2 linked regions of the Homo sapiens genome follow. The protein of the gene in region 2 purifies or fractionates together with the protein of the main gene of each other region. This does not show direct contact. Each region holds a gene or a part of one and is shown on either strand. Other genes may lie near its edges.

What was found.
Region 1: the proteins of ANKRD54 (region 2) and DOCK1 purify together in Homo sapiens (affinity purification with mass spectrometry; 2 studies listed by BioGRID and IntAct, with this or other methods). This does not show direct contact.

Annotation. Positions count from the first base shown.
Region 1 is NC_000010.11:127,447,258-127,453,144, reverse strand, and holds the end of DOCK1 (dedicator of cytokinesis protein 1), read right to left. Parts: intron 5,752-5,887; coding exon 5,600-5,751; intron 1,814-5,599; coding exon 1,718-1,813; 3' UTR 629-1,717; downstream 1-628. UniProt on the Homo sapiens protein: Involved in cytoskeletal rearrangements required for phagocytosis of apoptotic cells and cell motility. Along with DOCK1, mediates CRK/CRKL regulation of epithelial and endothelial cell spreading and migration on type IV collagen.
Region 2 is NC_000022.11:37,830,149-37,834,426, forward strand, and holds the end of ANKRD54 (ankyrin repeat domain-containing protein 54), read right to left. Parts: intron 3,830-4,278; coding exon of another isoform or gene 3,769-3,829; intron 3,608-3,768; coding exon 3,536-3,607; intron 3,059-3,535; coding exon 3,011-3,058; coding exon of another isoform or gene 2,935-3,010; coding exon 2,810-2,934; intron 2,597-2,809; coding exon 2,489-2,596; intron 1,870-2,488; coding exon 1,795-1,869; 3' UTR 707-1,794; downstream 1-706. UniProt on the Homo sapiens protein: Plays an important role in regulating intracellular signaling events associated with erythroid terminal differentiation.

The sequences.
Region 1 (5,887 bases), on a different chromosome or scaffold from region 2:
GTTTCTCAGGGGTGGACTGGATATTTACAAGCATGAATACGCTGGGGACAGCACCTGAGTAGGAGGAAGAGCCTCCCAGCTTCCTGGGCTCCACAGCAGCCTCCTTCTAGGCCGGGTTAGATGGGCAGAGGGCACATCCTTATGGCTTCCACACGTCTGGCAGGAGCAGAGGTGAGAGCCCCGTCCATTGAGAAGAGAACCCCCTGCCTTCCTTGTTTCTTGCCACCCCAGATCCAGCCAGATAGGCCCTGGAGAAAGCTCTCCATGTCCAGACCTCTACAGCTAAATCACACACCCATTAACCAAAGCCCTTTCTTAAATTAGCAGCTGAAAAGAGGCCCACATGATCTGCAGCCCCACAGCCCTCTGGCTTTGGTGATGGGGAAGCACTCAGCTGGTCTCTGCTTAGCTCCTGTCTATCAGGACATGCAGCCATGCACGGGACACGGGCACTTCCCATCTGGGCTCCAGATCAGACACAATTAACAGAGAGGATTAAAAACAATGTTGGAGGAAGAGGTGCATATATAAATGTGTGTCACCAAGCACTTTAACATAGCAGAACAGAAACAGCAGCGTCTGTATTTTACAATCAAGGATGAAAACATAATTGGTCAGACACTGTGAGTCTTTTAAAATAACATTTTATTTTTCGTTGTCAATGATTAACTTTTAAGTCTATTAGAAGAGTATCATGATTATAGTGAATAAAAAAATATAGATGAGAGAATACAAATATTAGGTTATACAAAGTTAGTTTTTTAAAAATCATTGTCCACCAAAATTTTCAGGACTTTGGAGTTCTCAAAAAAAAAATGTGTGTGTGTGTGTGTGTGTGTTTTAACACTTCCAGCAGTTAAAAATTAAGAACACATATGGATAATCATTGGTGGACGCCTATTATAATAAACGGAAGGACCACAAAAATTAAAACAAGTTCTAAGAACCATCATATATACAAATTTCTGTACAGAATGAGGACAAAAACAATTCACCCAATTAAAACCAGCTCTTGTGGTACACATACTCTTTTTCAGAAAAGAACGAACACTTATCTTCCTGTATTCATTTGTTTTTCCATTTGATTCAGTATTCTTAATGCTGTTTCCACCCCATAAATTAGTAACTGTTCAATAGCTGAGAAATATCCTATTTTCAATTATGCAGGGGAAATCAGGAGCTTCCCTGGAGGGGTTGAACTTCATGGTCTGATGTAGGTTGGAGACACACCTCAACCAACGAAGTCACACCACCGGCTGGAACAAGGAGGGGCTGGATACAACATCCCATGACAGTGAGGAGGATTCTTATACATCATCACTACACAGCTTCCTAAGAGTGATGGCCTAGCCTCTCCTACTTGGCTGAGCTCAGAGCAATTGAGCTCTTTGCAAATGCAAGTCATTTGGCACAAAAAGAAAGAATGTTTGGGCAAGACTCAGACTCTCTCAGAGCCAGACACACTCAGAGGCCCCCAACTCTGATAACTACGATAGCACATCCCGGACCCATATCTACCTCCCAGACCCACCTTGCTCCATGACGCTAAAGGCCACTCACTCCATGGTGAGAACTGAACTCCTTTGAAGAAAAAGCAGTCGCACGAAATGTTAACATCACAGGCCCAATGAGGTAAACAGCAGACTCAGGGGACACAGAAGGAGAGGGCATGGAGATGGGGAGGGGCAGCACACTCTTTCCAGAGAGGCTTGCGACGTCACTGCACGATCCCGGAGTCCACCGATGCCTGCTTGCGAGTTGTCTTTGGAGGGGGAGGAGGCGGAGTTTTGCTGGGCAGTGGAGGTGGCAGATGCTAAAAAACATGAGGATGGGGAAGATGTCACATAACTGATGTCCTGACAGAAAAGACACCGTCTCCAGGTGGGGTCTGACCTGGCACAGCCACTCAGCCGGAACCATCCTCCCCACATGAGTTGGGCTCCATCCTGTCCGACTTGGGGCTGGCAGGTCTACTAGGCTCAAGACTGGGCTGCTATGGGCCTGGGCCTTTCTGACGCCTCTGAGCACTCTCCCACCGTCTGCACAGCCCCTGAGAGGTACCATTGCCCTTTGCGTGGCCTTTTTAAATCTAGATGCTATCGACCAAGTTATCCATCTATTGTCTAAGGGATAAATAAGTCCTTAGAGGCACTCTCCAGGGGTGAGATGAGAGACCTTCTTTTGCTTTCTGAGCTTCGGGCAAAGGTTAGCAAGCTTCTCCTGGAAAGGGCTAGACAGTACATATTTCCAGCTTTTTGGCAGGCCACACGGTCTCTGTTGCAGCCACTCAATGCCACTGGTGTGGCCGAAAAGCGGTCATTGACAGTGTGTACAGAAAGGGGTGTGGCTGTGTTCCAAGAAAACTATTCACAGAAACAGGTGGCTGGCTGGCTGGCTTCAGCTCATGGGCATATATTACTTTAGATTCCAAAAAAGAACATTAATTTCCAATGTGAAGATAATAGCAAACCCCTTGCTGATGGACCTGGCTGGAGTGTTATGACTGAGGGCAGCTGCACCCTATTGCTTTTGGGACCCTCATGCCCATCACACACACCTGATGTGCAGGAGACTCTCTAGAAATATGGGTCAATCGAATAGAAAAATGGATGAATGAGTGAATAAATGAATGAGTGAATAAACGAGTCAGTGGATAAATGAAGAAATGAACAGGTAAGTAAACAAATGAATGAAGAAGTGAACAGACCAGGGTAAGTGGGAGCATGCCACAGGCAGAAGAACCAGAATGAAATCACAGAACACTATCGTCTAACTTAAGGGTAAGAGTGGATTTTTATCAGCCTCTCAGTGTGGGTTTGCATTTAGCTGAATGTGAGAAAAGAGGTTTTCAAGGATAGACAGTGACGCAGTAGTCTCTCACTCATCGCCCAGATTTCCTCCTGATTCACAGACTAGTAAATACAAAAATGACCTAATGCTTAACACAGAGAGGAGAATAAATGTGGAAAAGTAAAGCTGATATAAAGATGTCCTATGAGTGTATGACCTTATATTAAGGAAGGTAAAACAACAATTAAGTCTTTTTAAGGTTGGTTAGAACCGTTAAAAGAGACATCTATTTTGAGGTCTGATGAAACTGTTTGTTTACATGTGAAAGCCACACTCACTGATAGGCCAATGAGGAGCAGGTAAGGACCACACTAACACAGCCTGATACCAACACAGCGCTGCAAATGACCTCTATGCCAAGTATGAGCATGTCAAAAGTTTATCACCATTAAGCAAAATGATTAATGGTGATAAACTCAGTAAGCTCAGATTACTGACAGGAAGAGCCATTTGGAAAGAAATGACAGCTTAGTGGCAACAACTAAAGACAGAGTTGCCTACAAGCCTGAGGCTGATCAATGAGAGTGACAGGAGGATATTGATCACACCCCCATCATGGCAGATGGATGATCATTATCCTAGAACAGCTCTCAGGGCCTGTGCAAAGGGAGGCACCCCAGGAAATGCAACCGCTTCTGCCTAATGATGACATACTAACCACCAGCGTGTCACCTGAGCATGCACTCAGGCTGCAAGTAAATTAAACAAGAAACAAAGACCAAAGACACCTGGGTCATTAATCTAATTGAATTCACACGCCCTTTATCAATTGAGAGAGAGCTAATCCATGTTATCCCTTACTTAATCAACTGTATGTGGCATCAGTAACCCACAATGGTGTATCCAAGAAATTGAGACAATAAAATGTTACCCCGGAGTTGATTTGTAACAAGAAGAGGAATTGGCTGTAATTCTAAGTTTAGAATTTTCAGTTTACTAGTGTAGGGAGACTAGGGGGAACATTCCTGCCTTTGCAATAAAATAGAGAGAAGAGAATGTGACCAATTAACGAAGCTGTTAGGGAAACAATACTCCAAGCAACCCAATATTCTTGTTAGACCCCCCCGAATCTCCTTTTACTCTCACAAGTAGTTAGAAATGGCCGGGGAAGGTCCGGCTTCCATTTCTGTGGTGCAACAAACCATTCCAGCCTGCCAGAAAGCCCTCTTCACAGGGGAACCTGGTGCCTCCTCCAGGACCGGTTCCCCATCGAGGCGTCTCTAGGGAGAGGGAGCCTGTTTAAATGGCACTTGGGTCTCAGAAGAGCAATCTGCCTCTTTGATATTAAAGATGACTGCTTGTTTAGTTTTCTGATACAAAGGGAATGATGAAATACGTATGCTGTACACAAACACCCTCTCTCTTCCACTCCTCTCATAAGGGATGTAATGACCTTGTGGAACACTCCGTCAACGAGTCTCCATTAAAAAAAAAGAAAAAGAAATGGCACGTGGGATTTATATTGTTTATTAAAGAAAAATAAAAAAAAAAACCATGTCTCACCATTATGAAAAAAACAGAGCCACCCAACAATCTCATGTTTTCAATGTTCTACAGGAGTTTTGCGGCCATATAATTACTTCACTAAGGCTGGATAGCAAAAAAAATACGGCCAGCTGTCCACATATGAAGAGGGATATTTTACCCTTCAGACACCACTGATTTAATTGTCAAAGGCTGTGAATAACATGGCCTGGGGAGGCCTGAGCCTAGAAGCAGAAGTTCCCGCCGTGGCTGAGTCAATCGCTCGCCCGCCTCCATCCCACTCATGCTGCCCTCCACACATGCCTGGGCCCGACATGAGGATGGGGCTGGGACCCGCAGGGATGAGTGACGCCTGACAGCATCCTTGAGAACCAGGAGAGGAACGGGGTGGATCTCAAAAGAATGTTTCTAGAACTGTCAACTGGTAACTGAGGTGCTTGTTTAAATGGCTTTTCATGACTTTGACTAATATTTGTACGGGCAGGCAGGCCCAGGGGCTGTTTGGCACAAGGCACTTTGGGTGGCATGAATGACTAAAACAGCTGCTGGGGGGTACCAGCTTCAGGGACTCACGCTGAAGAGGGGTTCCAGCAGGTTGCTTAGGCTTACAAAGGCCAGTGCTGCTGGAGGAAGCCAGGTCAGCACCCCCGAACTAGCACTGGGGAGGGTGCCCAGGGGTGGGGGCACAGTGAGGATGACTGTGCCCAGGAGCCAAACCTGGCTGTCCTCTGCAGTCTCCGTAAGGTGAGTGCCTGTCACCACCCAGGAGCTCCCAGCACCAGGTGAGGCTGCCTGGAGGGATGTTTGGAGACAAGCTTCTCCAGGGCCAAGCAGGTGTACAACAGGTGCCTGCCATACAGGGCGATATTGGCCAACCTCTTTAAAAAGTCAGACCTCTTGATAGAAAAGCTACTTCTCAAAAATCAAAATGTCATTAGAATTGCATCTCCAGTGGAATGATCTCCATGGTGATGATAACCGATGACAACCTTGGAATGTCTATCCTCTTCCTCGTTCTGAGGCATGATATCAAAATGTGCTTTTTGATGCAGTTATTGATAATGACGCAGAGCCACAGATCTTACCCACTGGAGTCCTTACTGCTTCGATATCTTTTTGCAAAATCAAACCCGGGCCCATCATACATGGTTTTCCTCATGTGCTCACTAGCCCGAAGTAAACCTGCTAGTATCTGGAATGAGGGACTCGTCCTACTTTGTGGAGGCGAAGCAATGAAAGCCTGTGTTTCAGATTGCCGACTTACCCTCTGGTGTGGAGGGGGAGGTGGAGGTGTTGGCGAGCCCAGCAAGTCCTGGTTTTCCATCAAATTCCCGTAATCTGCCACGCTGCCTTTGAGAGGCAGAGGGGGTGGGACATCGGCCACGTCCGCCCCCGTCATGCCGTTCAGCTCCAAGCCTGGAAAACCGGGATCTATTTAAAATCAGCCCGACTTCCCCACGGAGCCTGAATGCTCAGGGAGCTGCTCCACGTTCCCTCCCAGAGAGGCAGGCACAGCAGAAACACTTCATCTGGCAGAAAACGTTTGTCAACA
Region 2 (4,278 bases):
GCTCACCTGGAGGGGATCAGAGTAACATGGCAGGAAGCGAGTGAAAAGCTACCCCAGAACCGCACCTCTGCTCTCCATGTGACTGGGGTGCCATCCTCCCTTACCTACCTCAGGCAGTGGCCTGAGTTCCACGGGCGCGCCCCACAGCTCCCTCTGCCGCCTCTCTTCAGGCTTGGGGCCACTGCACTTTCCCTTCCCCAGCCCTGCCAACCTGGTGGGGCACTGGGCTTCCCTCTCACAGGGTCCTGGGGACAGGCCTACCCTACATCTCATACCCACAGACAGACCCTTTTTTCCTCCAAGGCCTGGCCTAGGTTCTATGAGTTCAATGCAGATCTGAGCCATACCAAGCTGGGTTTGGGGAACACACTCTCCTCCTCTGAAAGGTAGACAGGGATTCCAACTTGGTGAAGGGGAGAGTAGGGCAGAGCCAGGCGGGACACGGACTGATCACCTGGAGAAAGTCACCATCAGCAGCCTTGGGGCAGGGGCGGGCCCAGCAGTGCCATCCCCTGGGTTTTCCCTGAGCAGGCCTCCGCTAGGAGCGCACGCTTCCTTCTGCCTGTCCATGGCCCACAGCAAAGGACTGGTGCTCCTGCAGCGGGGAGCGGGGCTGCTGACAGGACTGAACCTCAAGGTGAGTTTTTGGGGCTTCACTACAATACTAGTTTCTGGTTGCTGCTGCAATAAATTACCACACACTTAGTGACTTAAAACAACACAAATTTATTCCCTTAGAGTTCTAAAATCAGCCAGAATTATAAAATTAGCCTCACTGAGCCAGTCCAGGTGGGAGCAGGGCTGGGGCCTTCCAGGGCTCTGTGGGAGGATGCATTTCCTGGCTCTGAGGTGGCCTGGACTCTGTGGCTTGAGCTGCCCTCCTCAACTCCAGTTTCCTGCTCCATCGCTACACCTCCAACCTCCTCTCCCGTCACCTGCTCTTCTGTTATACAGACCCGGGTGAGGACATCAAGCCCTCCTGAACAAGCTGGGATAATCTTCCTGGCGAAAGATCCTTAACTTCATTACATCTGCAAAGCCCCTTTGGCCATACAAGGTAATTTTGACAGGTTCCTGGGATTAGGACATGGGCATCTTGGGAGGCCACTACTGGCCTACCACAACTGGGCAGCAAAACTATTACACCCTCCGGTATAATAGTTTTGGTGTTTCAATGACTGGGAGGAAAAGGGTTGGAATTTTTTGCTTTGGGGTCCCTCTTAACCTTGTATTTTTAAGGTCTGGGACTCACCAACCCTCCCCTTCCAACCAGAGAAACTCACTGCAGTATCTCCTTGAAAGTCTGGTGACGTGTCTGTCTAAGTGCTGGTGAGAGGCACAGGACCAACTGAGGGCCTCACGCAGTACCCCTGGCCACAGGGTGCCCGCCTAAGCCCACACCTGCTGACTGCAACAAGCCCATGGCCAGGACGGAACACAGAGAAGGGTCTGAGGCCTGGAGCGCGCCATGAAGGCCATGGGGCAAGTGAGGTCTGCTGAGATAGCGCAGGTCTGCGGAGCTGAAGTGCAGCTGCAGAGGCTGGTCTGGTGCTGCGAGAACTGGAAGAAGCTGGGAGCTGTGGTCCCTGTCCACAGAGATGCTGGAAACTGTGGCTGGGAGTGGCTCTGAGGCCGTGGAGAGAGAGCATCTCTGCCCCACGGCATCTGCGGGTGAGGGCAAGGTCCTCACCAGACAAGTGCAGCTCCAAGTCCCAGATGTTGGGCTTTTTCTTGGTACTGAGACAGCAGTGGGGCAGGGTGGGGCAGTGGCAGGAAGGCAGGGAGCCTCTCTTGCTACCTCTTCTCCATGCTCTGCATCTGCAGACTGAGGGAGGTGAAGCTGGCCAGGAGGTCAGTCACTTCATCCACCTGCAGGACGGAACAGAGGCTCTGTTATGGGACACGGGGTGTGCCAGGGCTCCTGGGTCTCTTCCACAATCCCACAGGCACAGAACACAGGCACGGTCTCTCCTCCCAGGGCGTGTGGTGGCTTCTGACTACGCAGCAGTTGACCAAGGGTCAATCTTTGACACCAGGTGGCCTAGCGCTGTCCTAGAGGGCAGGGCCATGAACACACACTAGCCACTGGCAACTTCAAAGGAAGTGAACGGAGGCTTTGAAGCCTGCAACCCCACAATCATAGGCTCTTTCCCCCACTTTTTTTGTTTGAGACAGGGCCTTGCTCTGGTTTTTTTTTTTGTTGTTTTTATAATTTTTGCCTTTTTCCACATGTTCTGAGAGGACCTTGCTTTGTCACTCAGGCTGGAGTTCAGTGGCAATCACAGCTCACTGCAGCCTCGAACTCCTAGCCTCAAGTGATCCTCCCACTTCAGCCTCCCATAGCGTTGGGATTACAGGTGTGAGCCCCTGCGGCTGGCCCCAGCCCACAGCCTCTTTCTGATACGAGTGTCTGGTGGCATCGGAGCAGGGTGGACTGGCCCTGAGGCTCCTGCCAGGCCCTGGGTCTGGGCCTGTGGCTGCAGCTCACCTGCTCTTTGGTACTGGTCATCTGCAGGCGGGTGCAGAGGTCATCCAGGCGTTCTCGCTGCTCATGTTGCCCTAGGCGCTCCAGATACTCCCTCAGCATATGGATGATCTGGAACAAGAGGGTGAGCTGAGCTGCCTGGGTTCCTAGGGAGGCAGACAGGCTGATGCTGCTTCCAAAAAGCACAGTGGAGCAGGTGCCAACTGGGGTCAGTGTGAAACAACCCAGGAGCCCTGGGACCAGAGGCAGGTGTGTCTGTGGTTAGGGCAGCATCTGTCCAGTGCTGCCTTGGTGCCGTGGTCTCCACACAGAAGGGGTACTCACCTGCTTCACCTCCAGACGCACAGCCTCTAGGCACTGGGCATGGCCCTCCTGCAGGATATTCAGCTTTGACTTGGCCAGGTGCAGGGGTGTGCGACCAGCTCGGTCCAGGGCATCTACACGGGCCCCTGCAGGTACCAGCTGAGGTGAGCATTCTGGGGGTGAGGGGGAGAAAGAGGACAGAGAGGGGAAGAAACCACATACCTCCTCGTAGCAGTGTGGTGATGACAGGAACGTGGTTGGTGCAGGCCGCTGAGGAAGAACAACAGAGACTTAAGAATCCAGGACCACCAGAGCCTGGCTCTGCGTGGCCACTGGAGGGAGCAGGGCTGTGTCTCCCAGACGCCTGTGCCAAGTTATGCCTACTGAGAAGGTATCGCCAAGGCACAGCTAGGTAGGACTCAGAAGTCAAGTTCAACTCCCTCCCTGTACAGCAGAGGAAACTGAGGCCTGGAGATAGGATCTGCCTCAGTGTGAGCCACAGTGCTGAGTGCTGCTGGGCTAGCCTAGGTTGCTAAATTGGCTCTGCCGAGGGCACAGCCAACTGCTAAATGATTGGAAGGCCCATGGGACACAGGCTGCTGGGCAGTGCAGCCCTGGGAGTGCAGGCCTAGGATCTTCCCTGACACTCACAGTTTCTGCCAGGAGCATGCCGGGCCCCACCCTCTTCATCTAAAGAGCCTTTCTTTGCTGCAAATGAGTTGTCTTAGTGACTTCTGACATGCTTACCCAGGTGCAGTGGCGTGTTCCCCAGCCCATCTCGCTGGTTAGGATCAGCACCATGGTCCAGGAGCAGCTGCACTGGAAACAGGCAAACCCAAGAGGAGTTGTCGGAGGCTTCCATTGCCTGCACCCTGAACCCCTAACCTAGCTAGAGAGGCTGGCTCAGAGTAGGGGACACGGAATGCAAGCATGGATGGCTGTGTTACTTCATTCATTCACTCACTCACTCACTTACTTACCAGAGTTCATGGGCAAAGCCCTGAGGGCCAGGAACTGAGGATTTGGGGAGGGCCTCTTGGCCTATGCAGGTGTAGGAATGAGATTTGAAGGGTTAAGTAAAGTTCTTCCAATAGCAGCTGCTCCTGGTGAAGGCTGTCCAGGGCATTTTCTGCTTCTCCCACAGCCAAGCACCATGGTAGGAATTAAGTCAATAAATGATGCTGAGCTCCATGGATAACCTCTCCCTCCTGGCAGTCTTGGGATCACCTCAGGGGTGTGCTGTATTATCACCAGGGTCTGCCAATACCCAGAAGGATGCATAGGCAGGTAGCCTGGATCCCAGACATCATACAGGGAGGTCAGGCTGAGCCTCACACCATGTACAAAAACTAATTCAAGAGGGACCATAGACATAAGTGTGAATGCTAAAACAGGCTTCCAGAAGAACATGAACATCTTGGGCAGGCAAAGATTTCTTAAATAGGTCACAAAAATACTAACCATAGGAAAGAAAAGGCCAGGCATGGGAG